Regions from separate parts of the Homo sapiens genome. Here regions 1 and 3 are each linked to region 2. Evidence: fine-mapped expression QTL. A gene starts in region 2. Each other region holds a variant in brackets. All regions are shown on one strand. Distances are from middle to middle.

The links. PIP is the estimated chance that this variant, and not a neighbour inherited with it, causes the effect.
Region 1: its variant is the best candidate, but not a certain one, in a credible set for the expression of MAPKAP1 in whole blood (INTERVAL, PIP 0.56).
Region 3: its variant is the best candidate, but not a certain one, in a credible set for the expression of MAPKAP1 in whole blood (INTERVAL, PIP 0.77).

What each region holds. Positions count from the first base shown.
Region 1 is chr9:125,549,212-125,554,580 of GRCh38, forward strand. All of the region lies in intron 6 of MAPKAP1 (MAPK associated protein 1), which reads right to left. Among named protein-coding and RNA genes, the nearest start is that of MAPKAP1, 160 kb to the right of the region's middle. The variant G/A (reference allele first, on the strand shown) is at 2,894.
Region 2 is chr9:125,704,880-125,710,248 of GRCh38, forward strand. MAPKAP1 (MAPK associated protein 1) reads right to left here and starts at 2,329. Exons shown (of 12, transcript NM_001006617.3): 1 at 2,092-2,329. RefSeq lists silencers at 2,033-2,262, 2,373-2,542 and enhancers at 2,251-2,545, 2,543-2,702.
Region 3 is chr9:125,680,393-125,685,761 of GRCh38, forward strand. The region is part of intron 1 of MAPKAP1 (MAPK associated protein 1); the gene reads right to left. Among named protein-coding and RNA genes, the nearest start is that of MAPKAP1, 24 kb to the right of the region's middle. The variant A/C (reference allele first, on the strand shown) is at 3,087.

The DNA of each region.
Region 1 (5,369 bases), 160 kb before region 2:
TCAAAAGCCACAGTCTCAGTTTGCAGAAGTGGGAAAAGGTTGCTACGAGCAGTTCTCGAGTCTCTGGTCCTGACCAGTTCCCAATAGTGATGAAGACACACTCTAGTTCCCAACCTGCTCTGGTCCAATTCCATGCATGTTCATTCTCCAGCATTTCAAGGTAGAAAATGAAAATATATGAGCAAGAGAAGGCCTTGTAATAACTGCAGCATGCCTGCTTTAAAATAAGTCCTCTGAGTATGACTTTATCCATAAAGAGTTTACACTAGTGTGAATGCCACATTTTGTTTCCCCTTAGACTGACCAAAAATTTTTTTTAAAGATCAAAGCGTACTGTGGGAGCATGCGATGTTTGACATTGGACAAAGTACTCTTTTTCAAAACAGACATTTTCCAAAAACATAACTCGCTAGACTAATGGGCAGTGAGAAGCCAAAATGACTGCCCTCCGCCTTCTCCTTGTGTATCTTTGCCAGAGTCCTTGGGACTTGCCAAATCCGGTCATGCCTGCTTAGCTTGCTCGACTGATTGTGCCAGAAAAGAAAATAAGACACAGATGTATTTGAGCTCTTTGAGATGCCAGTAAGAGAGACAGCTAATGGCTTCATTTCGACCCTCCCCTTCCAGCTGGGCACAGGTGGGGGATAATGAGGTCCCTCTCCCTAATCAAACTCAATTATTTACTACTCTATATAACTGCAAAGACATTCACATTCCGTTCAGAATATAAAACACACCGTGGGCTACTTCCAACCACTGCCACTGGGTATTTATAACAAACTCAAGTGGCTAACAGTTTGCCTTGGCAGGAGTTTAAGTGTGTAAAGTTTTGCAAACTGTTTCTGTTCAAATATGTCCTGCTGAAATGGGGTCCCAGGCGGGGTTCCATAACTGTCAGGTCAGTGAACTGCATAACATCTGAGAATGTATTCACCATGCAGTGCAGACAGGATCTGGAAATCAAACGCTTCGTTCTATCACAACCTTCTGAGAAGCATCACAGTTTTTTTCAACAGCAAGACTGACATTGTATTAATAAACATTCCAAGTCACTAGCCTGACATGTACATAGCAGCAGCTGACAGACTCCGACATAAGCTGAGGGGAGAACAGAGGAAATCAAAATGAGACATAGTAACTAAACATGGCCAAAGGGGGAAGCATCACCAAACCAATCACATGGGCTCAGAAATGGGAGCTCCCCGACTTTGAAGACACATATTAACTAAAGCAACAATCTGGCATAATTTTTAGATACAAAGTAAGTTGATGGTTATCTAAAATGTGTGCTTTTATGGTAGGAACAAAGCGAATCCTGGCACAATTTCAAGACATTCCAGTGAGCAAAACATACATATTTAGCTTGTCTGACCTTTAAATTCTTAGAAGTGTGTAATTAATGCTTTCCATCTTTATCACTTGCTCCAATATTTCTGTCACTTTAAACAGACACAAAGAAAAATCCTTTCTTTTCTCTAGACAGTAGCTGTTGCCAAAAAGGAAATCAAGTCAGATTTACAAATACAAAATTAAACAGGCTGCATATGTTACATTTCCATACACGAGGACAATCTGGACAATGAAAATGTTTGCTAATACAACAGAATGAAAAGAAACAACACACAGTTGGTCCTCTATGAATCAAGCAAACAATAAATAACCAGGATAATTTATACTCATTTTGTCAGGCCTGGTTACAAAGAACACAAGCATCTTCTTTTATTCCTTATTCTATTTTAGCTCTGCCTCTTACCAAACAGCATGGCCTTGAATTAGTAACTAACTACCTGTCTCTGAGCCTCAGCTTACATATTATAAAAGTGAATTGCGTATAAGAAACTTTACTGATGGGGTGTGGCCAATTTTAAAATATCATAAAAAAGAAATAAATGATAAAAAAAGAAATAAATGAGATAGCATCTATTGGAGGTATGAAACTGAATGAGTGTGTGAAAATATTCTCCCTGCCCTCCTCTTTTTTTCATTCTCTAGACCACAAGGCAATAGCATATAACAGAAGGAAAGGCTTCAAGCTAATGACACCCTTTAATAAAGGTCTGGTCACTTGGGGTATACTGTGGATTTATCATCAAGAAGGTAAACTAAAACTCCCCACTCTTCTGAAAAGCCCAGTAAAGAGCATGAATGAACCTAGGGCACGCCTCTTTAAAAAAGCAGCTCATCGTTCCCTTTCTGCAGAGCCAAGAGAAGCCAAGGTAGTCTCTGGGAGCCTGCCCAAGGCAGCCCAGCTTCTGGGCTAAGACCTTCCACTGTTACCTGACAGCTGTTACCCAAAGAGCTCTTGGTTAGAACTGTTCCTTCCTCATGTTCCTCTAATATATCAAATATTTAAAGGAAAATACATATATATATAGGAGACAGTTTAACTGCTCTGACTTCTAACCTAAGGAGATTCTGACCATTTTATTGGCCTTGACTTTTTTTTTTTTCCTTTAATGCCCTTCTTCCCCCACTCCAGAGTAGAATCCTGGCATGAAACTTTAATGTCAACACATATAAGGTAATAATACTACCACAGTTGTTTTTGTCATTGCCACTTTTGAACTCAATTCAGTCTCACAAATTCTGACTAAATTAGGTCTGTGTTGGGAATGGGAGAAGGAGACGAACAAGGCAGGTCCCTATCCTTGAGAGGCACTTAGCCCACTCAAGATCTCATTCTCCCTTGTCCTACTTTGTCTAAAGGAACAGTAGGCTTTGGCTTGGTCACTGCTGGCAAGAAACACTTCTTGAGATGCTGGGCACTATCTGAGCTCCAGCTCTTTATCTGGTTTTGGGGGTCAGCCAAAAACCTTCCCATTCCTCCCACTCCCTACTTCTCCTCTCTGACACTACTGATATCCAAACATCTTTACTGCTTAAGCTCAAAGTA[G/A]TCAGCAAGTTAGGGATTCCCATTTATAGATATATTTGCTCTGTCCAAAATCAATCAGGAACAATGGATAGCTTAGGAATCCACTTGAAGATTTGTTAAAAGAGGCAGTTTCCATTACCAGGCTCCTAATTTGCAAGTTGTTAGAATAATCCATTCTCCTTCCCTGAACAACAACTCTATCCAGGGGATTCCTGGGGCCCAGGGGTTCTAGAGGGAAAGCTAGATAGATCTAGTCCTGATTTAGTAAGAACATCAGAAGACATCCAATTTCACGTTCCCTCCACAGAATAATTTTCCAATGAGAAATTCATTAATTAGTTCCCCTTTAAAAAATGTAAATAATTATAAAATATAATTCACAACCTTTGCATGATGGAATGAAGACAAATTTAAAAATTTCTTTTATATGCAGAAACAGATCTATTTCCCAATTTTGCTATAATGGACACATATTAATTATATAATAAAAAATAACTCAAAGGAAGGTTAAACCCCATTCTCACCTTAGTGTAAATTATTCCCACTGAGAATCCCTGACAGAAATAACAATAGCAACTATGTAACACTTCCTACATGCCAGAGTCTCAGCTAATATTAATAATCACAGCAGCATTTCCTGAGGTTCAAGAGCCCCCAGGAATCAACAGATGAATTTACAGACTAAGTTTCAGAATTTAAAAACCTGTTTTCTAACGGTGATGTGAGCCTCTAGTTCCAGCTACTCAGGAGGACTGTCTGAACCCAAGAGTTCCAGTCCAGCCTGGGCAGCATAGTGAGACACTGTCTCTAAAAATTTTTTTAAATTAAAAACAATTTTGATTTTAGTCAATGAAAAGCATATAGAGATGTATTATCTATACATATCAATATATGTATGATATGGATGTGTAGCTATATATATCTATATGTGCTTTTCATTGAACTAAAAGCAAAATTATATGTGTCACCACATATTTTATATATGTCACTGTGTGTGTGTGGGGGGGTGTATGAGATAAAGATACAGATATAGGCCCCTCCTCACTCCTCATCTTCCATGTTCCCCATTTTCCACCCACCTGGGGAGCCCTGAGCCACTGCCTAGAGGAGAAATACCCAAGAGAGTCACCTGGCCTACATCAGACAAATGTGAACAAGAAATAAAATTATTAGGCTGGGCGCGGTGGCTCATGCCTGTAATCCCAGGGGAGGATTTGGGAGGTAGAGGCAGGCAGATCCCCTGAGGTCAGGACTTCGAGACCAGCCTGGCCAACATGGCGAAAACCCATCTCTACTAAAAACACAAAAATTGGCAGGGCATGGTGGCAGGTGCCTGTAATCACAGCTACTCGGGAGGCTGAGGCAGGAGCATCGCTTGAGTCTGGGAGGCGGAGGTTGCAGTGAGCCAAGATCACGCCATTACACTCCAGCCTGGGTGACAAGAGTGAAACTCTACCCAAAAAAATGGGAGGGGAGGGGAGGGCAAGACGGAAAGAAAGAAAGAAACTTATTGGGAAAATCCAGAAGTTGACCAACAAACCTACCCCATGCCCATTTGTCTATGTAGTCTACGGCTACTCACACACTACAATGGCAGTGCTGAGTTACAGAAACTCTATGGCCAATAGCCTAAATATTTACCATCTGGCCCTTTGCAGAAAAAGTTTGCTGAGCTAGAAGCGGTGGCTGAAGCCTATAATCCCAGCACTTTGGGAAGCTGAGGTCAGCAGATCACTTGAGTCCAGGAGTTTGAGACCAGCCTGGGCAACACAGCAACACTCTATCTCTACAAAAAATACAAAAAGTATTTGGGCATGGTGGTGCATGCCTGTAGTCCCAGCTACTTGGGAGGCTGAGGTGGGACGATTGCTCGAGCCTGGGAGGCAGAGGTTGCAGTGAGCCAAGATGATGTCACTGCACTCCAGCCTGGGTGACAGAGCAATACCCTATCTCAAAAAAAAAGTTTGCCAACCCTAGGATAACGTGGCGAGATTTGGGGGGTTATGTGTTCCAGCAGCTAGAGTTATTTAACATAACTAACAAACTTAGTAAAAGTCAAATGGCATTACTGCAAGCTGCATACAGAACTTGTTTGCTGAACAGAGAAAAATGGTGACAGAATTCAGTGGGCACAAAGATCTCTATGAACAGTCTTGCTGGTCTCTGAAAAATCTGTGCTGTTTGGTGCCAAGTCACACTATACACAAGTATCAGTCAGGCAGAGCCCACTTATGTATAGACCAAGCAACAGATAAAGTAGAGTGACCAATCTGGTTTACCTAGGATGGAGGAAGGGGTTGGAGGTGAGCATCAGGGAGTGCTCATAGATTCAGGACTTTCAGTTTTGAAACAGGGAGAGTCCTGGACAAACCATCACAAACTGATCATACTAACAGAAAGCGTGGTGGGCCAAACGTAAAGTAGAGTTTTCTAGGTTAGGAGCGGTGGCTCATGCCTGTAATCCTAACACTTTGGGAGGCCGAGGCAGGAGGACTGC
Region 2 (5,369 bases):
AACACTCCATGTGGTCAATATTATTCCCTAACCCAACCCCTAGTTGAAGAAAGTGATGCTTGGAGTTATGTGTCGAAGGTCACATATCCTGTAAGAACAGGGACCAGGAATTGAATCCAGAGTCCATGCCTATTTTCTATAGACTGTCTTCTCTGCTCATATTCAAAGCTGAGCTAACTAACCTACCTGCCATCTCCTTGCCTTGGAAGAGCACAGTCTTTACATTTAAAAGATTTCTGTACCATTCATTTTAACATTCATATGTTTTGTCCTATATAACTTTTGGTTTCAATATGTACTTGCATAAAAAGAGGGAGATGATGTGAGAAAAAGGCAAGACATGTAATGGAAAAAGCACAGATTTAGGCATCAGACAGACCTGGGTTTGAATCCTGGCTCTGTCTCCTACCAGCTGTGTAATTTATTATGGGTCTTCCTAATCTGTAAATTGAGGTTAAAATGATTAAACAATAGAAACCCCTATATAATACCCAAATACTCAAAGTTTAGTTTACCTCAAATTATGAAGCATTACCTGGCCACATCCCATCCCTCAAAGGTGAATAACCCATTCCCCTCCCGCACCTACCACTGTCACAAGAACTCTCACACAATGTACTTATCACGGTGTTAGAATTATTCATTTCCCTTATCTCTCTTTCACTAAATTGAGCTCCCTGGCAGCAAAGACTGAATCTTATATTTATCTCTAATTGCCTAGCATGGTACCTGGCATATATATACATATCCATATTCAGTAAACATTTGCTAAGTTAAATAATTGTAGATAAAAATGAGCGCTTATAGAATTCTAGAGGAAAAATCATTTCCAGGTGGGGTTGTCCTGAATTGGTTGGGTGAGGCCAACTCAGCTGAGCCGTGGGAAGCGTCTCAATAGACTGAAAGAGAAAAGGGGAAACCTAGGCAAGGTAGGGAGAATGTTCTACAAAAATCAATGGAATAGGAAAGAACAAAAATGATTAGAGATCCTACTTATTCAGAGTAATGGATCAGGATGGGGTAATTAAAGAAGGAGACCTTTTCAAGCATAACTGGAAAGGTAACCAGGAGCCAGATTAGGAGATGTAAGGGGGTGTAAGTGCAGTCTGGGACACACAGTAGTTGAAGGTAGGCATGAGCACACAGATGAATGGGAAAGGGCTACCAGCATGCCCCAAATCCCGCAGGTGTGTAAACTGAAAAACATGAAAACAATTATTGCTTCATCAAGAACTCTTTCCGTGTTTACTAGGTACCTTGTGTGGGCTCATAAAATATAAGGAATAAAACCCATATCTAGGCTTCTGCTCAAGTGGGTTTTAACATTACGGATCCACCTCTCCTGCTTGTCAGAGAATGAGAACGCTGCTTTTTTTAAACCAATGGGTCTCCATTTGACTCTTCACACCTGGGAAAGTTTTGAACTTTGCCGATTTGGGTTTATAACAACATGGTGCTTTGTACAGTGCCAGGTACTGTGGTGGGCTTCCAAAGTGACTTTCATTCATTCAAAAGGAAGTTTTAACCAATTTCTGAGTCAATTTGGGGGTCTCTGGTTAAAGTCATAATCTTGTTTACGCTACAATCTCTTTTTCCCAGCCTTAAACAAATCTAAATGACTCCTTGCCACTCCCATAAACAAAGAATGAATCAAAGTTCCAGCAGCACTGTAGCTAGAAAAAAGTCTGTAAGGCTGTTAACCTCTTTAAGGGGGAGGGGGAGAAGGGACGCAAGGAAACAAGGACCACACAGTCAATGCTTGAAAACCTTGATTTTCACATTATGAAGACCAGGGCACCTAGATATTGCCAAGTGCAGGCCCAGAAACTGCCGGAGTCAACTACACCCCCCACCCCCACACTACCAGGTCAGCTGGCTTCTTTTCCCCTAAACCACACACCCGCCTCAGACTCCTGACAGCCTCCAGTTCTGGAAATGGCCAGGAAACGAACGCGCCCGGGCCACCTGAACAAGGGCCCGGCAGGCGGCCCGCCGGGCAGCGCTGAAACTGGAGGGGTGAGAGGGCCGCCAGGTGGGCAAGCTGGTGGGCTGACGGACGGGCGGGGAGCTGGCGGCTGGGGCAACCTTTACCTGAAGCTGCTTCCACACTACGGGCCGGGTCGGCCCCGGGACACGTTCCTGAGGGGAGGGCCCGGCTCCCCCACGCCTCCCGGCCCCTGCCCCGAGCTCTGCACTCTCGGGATCCACGGGGACCGGCGCTCCTCCCGGCCCGCTCAGCTGCCGCTTCCCGGGTTAGCCCTCATGCCCCTGCTGCTCGCCGCCGCCGGCCGGCCGAGCAGCAGCCCTATTACCCCGAGCCGCACACGACCCGGAACCACACCCCGGCGTTCCGGAAGTCCCCGACCGGGAAGGAGCCTCTGGCTGGGGACGTAGTGCGCAAGCCCCAGAGCTGAAAGCAAGGAGCGGTAGCTTCCCGCGGGGCGGGGCCGGGAGGGAGGCCGGGCGCATGCGCGCCGCTTCTCCAGTGCAGGGAAAGGCCTGGGTCGGAGACTGAGTTCTGGCAAGATGCGCCAGTGCCTGGACTTGCCTTGAGCAGGAATCAGTGTTAGGCTTCTCCATCGAATCTTCTTTCTCCCCATTTCCACGGAGAAAAGCCCTTAGTTCGTCCAGAAATGAGTGATGAGGCAGCTCAGCCTCTCTGAGAAAGACCTGGGTTCAAATGCCAGCTCTTATAACTTGCTGTGTGTCCTAGGATGTGACACTTCTCTCTGAGCCTCGGGTTTTCCCATCCAGGGCAATAGTTTCAACTTTAGAGTATATTGCTGTGGGAATCGAATGGGATGATGCTTGAAAAACACCCAGCATAGTGCCTGACACATAGTAAACATGCAGTCAATGTTAGTTATTTCTCTTATTATAATATCTGTAATATGGAGGTGACAATAATCTTCCTCAAGCCCTGCTGGGAGGTTTCCAGGAGATGTAGGAGGACTGGCACAGGGCAGAAGTTCAGTGTGTCTCATGCTGCTCCCTTCCTCTCTCACGGAGGAAATCAGTAGAGAAAGCCACGATGAAGGGGGAAAAAGGATTCAGGGAGTGCAGTGAGAGTGGTTCTCCCACCTGAAAGATGCTTGGGGAAGTCTCTCAAAAACGCACCTTAGCAAAAGAAAAAACTCAAGGTTGAATTTCAGCCCTGAGGGACCCCTGCCCAATTTTAAACTTATTAATAAATATGCCATGGGGCCAGGCACGGTGGCTCACACCTGTAATCCCAGCACTTTGGGAGGCCGAGGAGGGCAGATCACTTGAGATCAGGAGTTCGAGACCAGCCTGGCCAACATGGTGAAACCCTGTCTCTACTAAAAATACAAAAATTAGTCTGGCGTGGTGGTGTGCACCTGTAGTCCCAGCTACTCAGGAGACTGAGGCAGGAGAATGGCTTGAACCCGGGAGGCAGAGGTTGCAGTGACCCAAGATCAGGCCACTGCACTCCAGCCTGGGTGACAGAGACTCTGTCTCAAAACAAAAAAACAAAAAACACGGTGGGTCTACCCATGTATTTCAAATATGGTCATCCATCACTTAATGATGAGGACACAAGAAATGCATCGTTAGCTGATTTTGTGGTTGTGTAAACATCATAGACTGTACTTACACAATGTCAGAGCCTACTACACACCTAGGCTGTTTGGTATTAGCCTATTGCTTCTAGGCTGCACACCTGTACAGCATGTTACTGTACCATATACTGTAGGCAATTCTAACACAATGGTATTTGTGTATCTAAACATCTCTAAATGCAGAAAAGGTACAATTAAAAGACCATGTTATAATCTTAGGGGACCACCATCATATGCACTCTGTCATTGACCAAAACATCCTCATTCCACGCATGACCATATGTGATTGATCTCTTACTACATCCCATTACTTTATGTAATTGGTATCTTACCACATATCTATACTGGGGGAATAGTGCACCTCAGCACCCAGACACACTCTTGCACACACACCACCACAGTTCCATCAGGGACCTGTCAGAGGCACTCTAACAAAGCAGCAGGTGTGAACAAGTTTGGATATTTGATTTTCTGAGGTCACCAGGTTATCTGTTCCTTCCTAAATCTTACTCTCCATTTTCCTCTCTCTCTCTCTCGAGTTCCAATCTGAAGCACAGCTGCCTGACTGTCTCCTAGACACATAAAACTCGACCTATCTAAAACTGCTAAGCAGTTATAGATTCTAAAGAGTAAATATTTCCTAGCACTTTGAGAGACCAAGGCAGGAAGATCATCTGAGCCCAGGAGTTCAAGACCAGCCTAGGCAACATGGTGAGACCCCATCACTACCTTAAAAAATTTATCTCTATATAGGCCGGGCACGGTGGCTCATGCCTGTAATCCCAGCACTTTGGGAGGCCAAGGGGTGCGGATCACAAGGTCAGAAGATCAAGACCATCCTGTCTTAACATGGTGAAACCCTGTCTCTACTAAAAAAAAAAAAAAAAAAATACGAAAAATTAGCCAGGCATGTGGCACACACCTGTAGTCCCAGCTACTTGAGAGGCTGAGGCAGGAGAATCGCTTGAACCTGGGAGGTGAAGGTTGCAGTGAGCACACCACTGCAGCCCAGCCTGGACAACAGAGTGAGAGTCTGTCTCAAAAAAATAAAAAATAAAAAAATATATATATACACACACATATACACATATATTTTTTTTAGCCAGGTGTGGTGGTGAATGCCTGTAGTCCTAGCTGCTTGGGAGGCTGAGATGGGATGATTGCTTGAGCCCTGGGAGGTCAAGGCTGCAGTGAGACGTGATCATGCCACTGCACTCCAGCCTGGATGAAAGAGCAATGCCCTGTCTTGAAAAAAAAATTAGAAAAATAAAAAGTGAATACTCACTCTGCCACTTACAAGTTTTGTGACTTCATCTCTCCAAGTTGCTTCTCTAAATATTCTTATCTTTACCTGGAAAATGGGAATGACAGAAGTCCTACATAACCTCATTAGTTTGTTGCAAGGATAGAATGACCTAATACATGTAGCTTACATATAACAGAGCCTGGCATGTGACTATTATTTACTAATGCCTACCAGTATGAGTATACCTCAGTCAGTAAGCAATACTTATTGAGTGCCTATTGAGATTCAGTGGTGAAAAAGCCAGACGGGGACCCTACCCTTAAGAAGCCTTGTAGTCAAGTTCGACTATGGGTTTGAAATACTGTAGTTACTGTGGTAAGTTGGCATGCAGTGATATATGGTAGGATTTCAAGGACAGTATTGAGGGCCCAGTTGAGAATGGAGACTAAATGTATGGTGATACTAATATGATGGCTAGTGTGATTATTCTATAGCTAGTTGGAGCAGTCACGATACACACACCCAAAGAATGAGAAGTTGGA
Region 3 (5,369 bases), 24 kb before region 2:
TGACCATTAAAATAAAACACTTTATTGCTTTTAAATCTCTTTCTCTAACTCCAATTTAACTCTAAATTAAATCTTCATTTATTTTTTGGACTAGCAAAAATTGAGCTTTTTTCCCCCTCAGGGAATTAAAATCTTCTCCATGTGAATATGCCCAATTTCATTAAGCAGTAAATTGTGAGACCATATATCTGGAGAGTTTGTTTCTTCTTTTTACATTTTTATTTCCATATTTTGACTAAAAGTGCTTACTAGACTAAAATAACAGAAATGATTTATCTTATTTTGAATGAGATTCATTCACAAAATCATCTCAGCACTAAATGAAAAATTGTATAAATACTGGCCTGCCCCCTCCAGAAGTTTACTTACAAACTTCAGCAGAGGAGCTGTGTCATATACATAGGGAACAATAACATAAAGCAAGATAAACCCACCACCAAATGAGATATTAAGACAACATGTTTTCCAAGAGACAGGAACATCACAGAAGACTTCAGGAAGGAAGGCAGAAGTATTTAAGGATAGCTATGCTTTCATTAGGCAGAAACACAAGTGAAACAGTAACAGTTGACATTTACTGAGCTCTTACCATGAGATGTACTAATCACTTTTCATGTAACAACATATTTAATCCTTACAGCCACTTCAGGAGGTAGGCATTAATACTATCCTCATTTTATAGATCTAAAAACAAACAAAACTAAGGCTTAAAGGAGTTAAGTATCTTGCCCAAGGAGACAAGGTAGATTTTTTAAGACCACAATTTTTGAAGCTCCTCCCATCAAGAGGTGGAGTCTATTTCCTCATCCTTGAATCTGGACTCACACTGCGATTTGCTTTGACCAACAGAATATAGGGGAAGGAATGTTGTGGAAATTCTGAACCTTGGCCTCAAGAGCGCTTGCAGCTTCTGCCCTGGCCTCTTCTGGACCACTTCTGAATTATGGGAAAAAGTCAGGGGTAAAAGACTATGGGGAGAAAGAAGCTCAGCCATCTCTGTCATTCCAGCTGTCCTGCTGAGGCCCCATGAGTGATTAAGTCATCAGGGACAAGCCTCCCACTAACCTACCAGGAGGCACAGTCTCTTCTTCTATCAAATGTCTCCCTCAGACAAAGGAACCCTGATCCCTGGTTTTCTTGTCTTATGCCACTAACCTCGAAATGCCTCAGAATCTTACATCTGCCAAGATCCAGTTAAAAAAGAACCTGGTAGAGTGATTCTCACACTTCTCCACGGACACACCTGAAGGGCATGGGACAGTGACCATAAATCAAGGTATGAGACAACCTAGGGGAGCCACCTACAGTAACACACCATAAGAAATTTATTTTTAGAATTCATTCATATTTTGTATTCTATTTTATACTACACTGCACCTATGTATGTTTGTTTACAGAGATAGCGTCTCGCTCTGTCACCCAGGCTGGAGTGCAGTTGTGTGATCACAGCTCACTGCGGCCTTGACTTCCCGGGCTCAAGTGATCCTCCCACCCCAGCCTGGGACTGCAGGCAAGCACCACCACACCCAGCTAATTTTTAAATTTTTTTGTAGAGACAAGAGTCTTGTCATCTTCCCCAGGCTAGTCTCAAACTCCTGGGCTCAAGCGATACTCCCACTTTGGCATCCCAAAGAGTTGGGATCACAGGCATGAGCCACTGTGCCCCTCCCCTATGTTTGTTTTAACAGGAAAAAAAAATGTTTATCTTCAAATACATCACTAAAATTGATACTTCAGGAAAATGTACCATGGTTACTTTGTAGCTTCCACTACACCCTGGCACATCCTAGGACTCTCTTAACCTCAGTTTGAATGGCAAGGATCTAGTGGAAAAACATAGACTTTGGTATCAGAAATGTCATTTTGTACAGATAAAATGGCACTTTATCAATGGACAACTCAAAACTCTAAATTTTACTCAAAAGATGTTTCCTATAAGGTTGAAGAACTGTTAAGTATAAACCACACTAAACTATAAAGTTCTAAGCACAAGTTAGAATAAAATACTGTTATTCAGCTATTATAAAACAATCTGTATTTTCAAAGTGTTTTGAAATAATGTTTATGTGCTAGCAATAGCTGTGAAACTTCAAACAACCTAACCACCCACCACCCCCAAAACTTCAAACCTGCCAACATTTCCAGCTGTTACAAGAAATCTGCCAGTTCGGTATAATGTGGCCCCTAAATTATTTTTCCAATGGGTGTTGTCTCTCTGACATAATAGATTTGACTGACACTTGTGAAAATAAACAATTTTACGTTTTACTTTAAGATCTTGGGTCAAAATGTTTACTAGTTTTACCTAAACTGAAGAATATAAATAATGCCAAAAGAACTAGACTGTTTCTCAATGTGAAATTACCGGTTTAGGAGCTTAAGCTGTAACTAGCACTCAATTGTCTACCAAATATTCATTCATTGGTTTCATTCATTTGACAAATATTTATAAGGCACTTACTACATGCTGGGCACCAAAGATACACTGCTGAGCAAAAATAAAGACTTTTGGCCACTGCCTTCATGGATCTTCTGAGGGTGGACCCAGTAGATAGAATTTTAAATTCTTTTTTTTTTTTTTTTGAGACGGAGTTTTGCTCTTGTTGCCCAGGCTGGAATGCAATGGTGCGATCTCAGCTCACAACCTCCGCCTCCCAGGTTCAAGCGATTCTCCTGCCTCAGCCTCCCTAGTAGCTGAGATTATAGGTGCCCGCCACCACGCCCAGCTAATTTTTTTGTATTTTTAGTAGAGATGGAGTTTCACTATGTTGGGCAGGCTGGTCTCAAACTCCTGACCTCAGGCGATCCACCCACCTCAGCCTCCCAAAGTGCTGGGGTTACAGGCATGAGCCACTGCGCCTGGCTTAAATTCTTGCCCCTTTCTGTTGTCCCCTACCCTTGAGTGTGGGTGGAATCTGACTTGCTTCTTTCTGGCCAATAAAACATGGCAAAGGTGATGGGACAGTCATTTCCTTGATTACTTTCCATTATATAAGACTCCATCTTAGCCACCTGAAGAGAGCAATTCTAAGCCAGAGAGATCTTCTTGCCGGCCTTGAAGAAGCAAACAGCTATGTTATGGAACT[A/C]CACATGGCAAGGACCTGAGAGCAGCCTCTAGGAGCTGAAAATGGTCCTGGCCAACCACTAGCAAGAGAAGGAGGATCTTAGTCATATCACCGCAAGGAAATGAATTCCACTACCCAACCTGAGAGAGATTGGAAGATCTTTCCCTAGTGAGCCTCCAGATGAGCTATATAGCCAGCTGACACCTTAATTTCATCCCTTTAAGAGCATGAACACAAAACTCAGCTGAAGCCATGACTCCTGACTCACCGTGAAATCATAAATTCATATCGTTTTAAGCAGATAAGTTTGTGGTAATTTGTCATGCAGCAAAAGAAAATGAATTCAGCATAGTGAAGGAAAATAAGCCTATAACCCTTCACATATAACACATAAGGCTCTCTAAAATGCAATTTCACTACCTCTTCCCTCCCCATCTTGCAACTTCCAGGACTGCACTGAATATGTGCTGGCCTTTGGTAATGATACTCCTTTATTTCAGGTGTACCCTTCTCCAATACAAATCTTATTCTTGTAAGTCCAACAGAAGTATCTCATCCTTGGTAAACCCTTCTATATCACCCAGAGTCCAACCTATTTTAATAGCATTTTATTTCTACCATCATTACAGTGAGTCATATGAATATTATTTTTAAGGAACCAACAATTTTAAATTTACCCAATTCTAGATTCATAAATATGGTTACTTCATTAAGGTATAAATCTCTCCCCAAATCATTTGTGAAGTTGTTACAGATTCCATCAACGATAATGTAATGGTTCAAATGGAAGCCGGTTTTTCTTCCTGGGAGACATTTAAGCAATCAATATCTGGAGATAGTTCCAGCTGTTACAACTAGAGATGGCTGCTATTAGTAGCCAGTGGGTAGATGCCAGTGACGCTAGTAAACATGGTACAATGCACAAGGCAGCATCCACAACAAAAAATTATACCTCCCCAAATATCAATATGAATAATGCCAAGCTTGAAAAACCCCACAATAATGTGAGGTTTGAAGCCACTAAATTTGTGGTAATTTTCAACTCCCTCGAAACTGTTTTGTTTATACTGAAACTAAACTATAGAACTTTGCTACTAAAATCTATGCTTAAACCTTCTAAGGGCTAAAAAAGTTCAAGTCTGTTTTCTGAAGTTTTAGTCTACCCTAAGGAGCGCCAAAGCCCAAACAACTACAATAAAGACAAGTTGCATTCCGTAAGACTTAGCCCTTGGTCTGAGAAGCCTTTTCACCCTTCTTCCCCTGACTACCTCCTAACATATTATTCAAAATCCAGCTCAACGGTAGCCTTAACCTCCTGGGCTCAGGCGATCCTCCCAACTTGGCCTCTCAGGTAGCTGGGACTACAAGCATGCACTACCACACCCGGCTAATTTTTTGCAGAGACAAGGTCTCACCATGCTGCCCAGACTGGTCTTGAATTCCTGGATTCCAGCGATCCTCCCCATCGGCCTCCCAGGGCGTTGGGATTACAGACCTGAGCCACCGCACCCGGCTTGCTCCCTCCATGTGCCCATTTCACTGCACTTAGTTCCTAGTTCTACCAAATAATTAACCCAGCACACTGCCTGTTAGTAAGGTGCTAAGTGTTTGTTGATTTTACTCATTCAACAAATATTTACTGAATGCCTACTATGTGCCAGGCACTGTTCTAGATGCAGAAAACACAGCAGAGAAGGCAAAGTCCTGCCCTCATGGCAGGACAAAGAAGTAAATTATATAGTGAGTTAGAAGTGCCATGAAGAAAAATAGCACAGAGAAAGAAATGGATAATGCTCGGTGGAGCCGTGAGTTGCAACAGTAAATGAAATAGTCAAGGAATGCCTCACTTAAGTGACATCTGACTTAACACCTGAAGGAGGTGAGAGAACAAGCCATGTAGACACTCCAGGGAATAGGTCTGCCAAGCAGAGGGGAACATGCCTCACACTGCTCAAGGAGCAGCAAGGAGTCCGCCAAGGAGCAAGTAGTAGATAATAAGATCTGAAAGACTGGGGTGAGTCTGTAGGGCCTTACAGGCCATCCCAAGGCCTTTAGCTTTTACTCCAAGTGAAATGAGGGGTCACTGGAGGATTGTGAATGATCTGTCTCACATTTAAAAGAATCTCCCTGGTTGCCATGTTAAGGAATGAATGAATTAAAGAACAAATAAAAGATCGCAAACAAATCACATTGGCATTTCTTTTTAAATAATAATCTGTTTACATGTTGGTTTTCTCTTCTAAACTTCTAAACTCTCAAGACACTGACTATCTTACCCATCACTATGCTGCCAGTTTCTAGTAT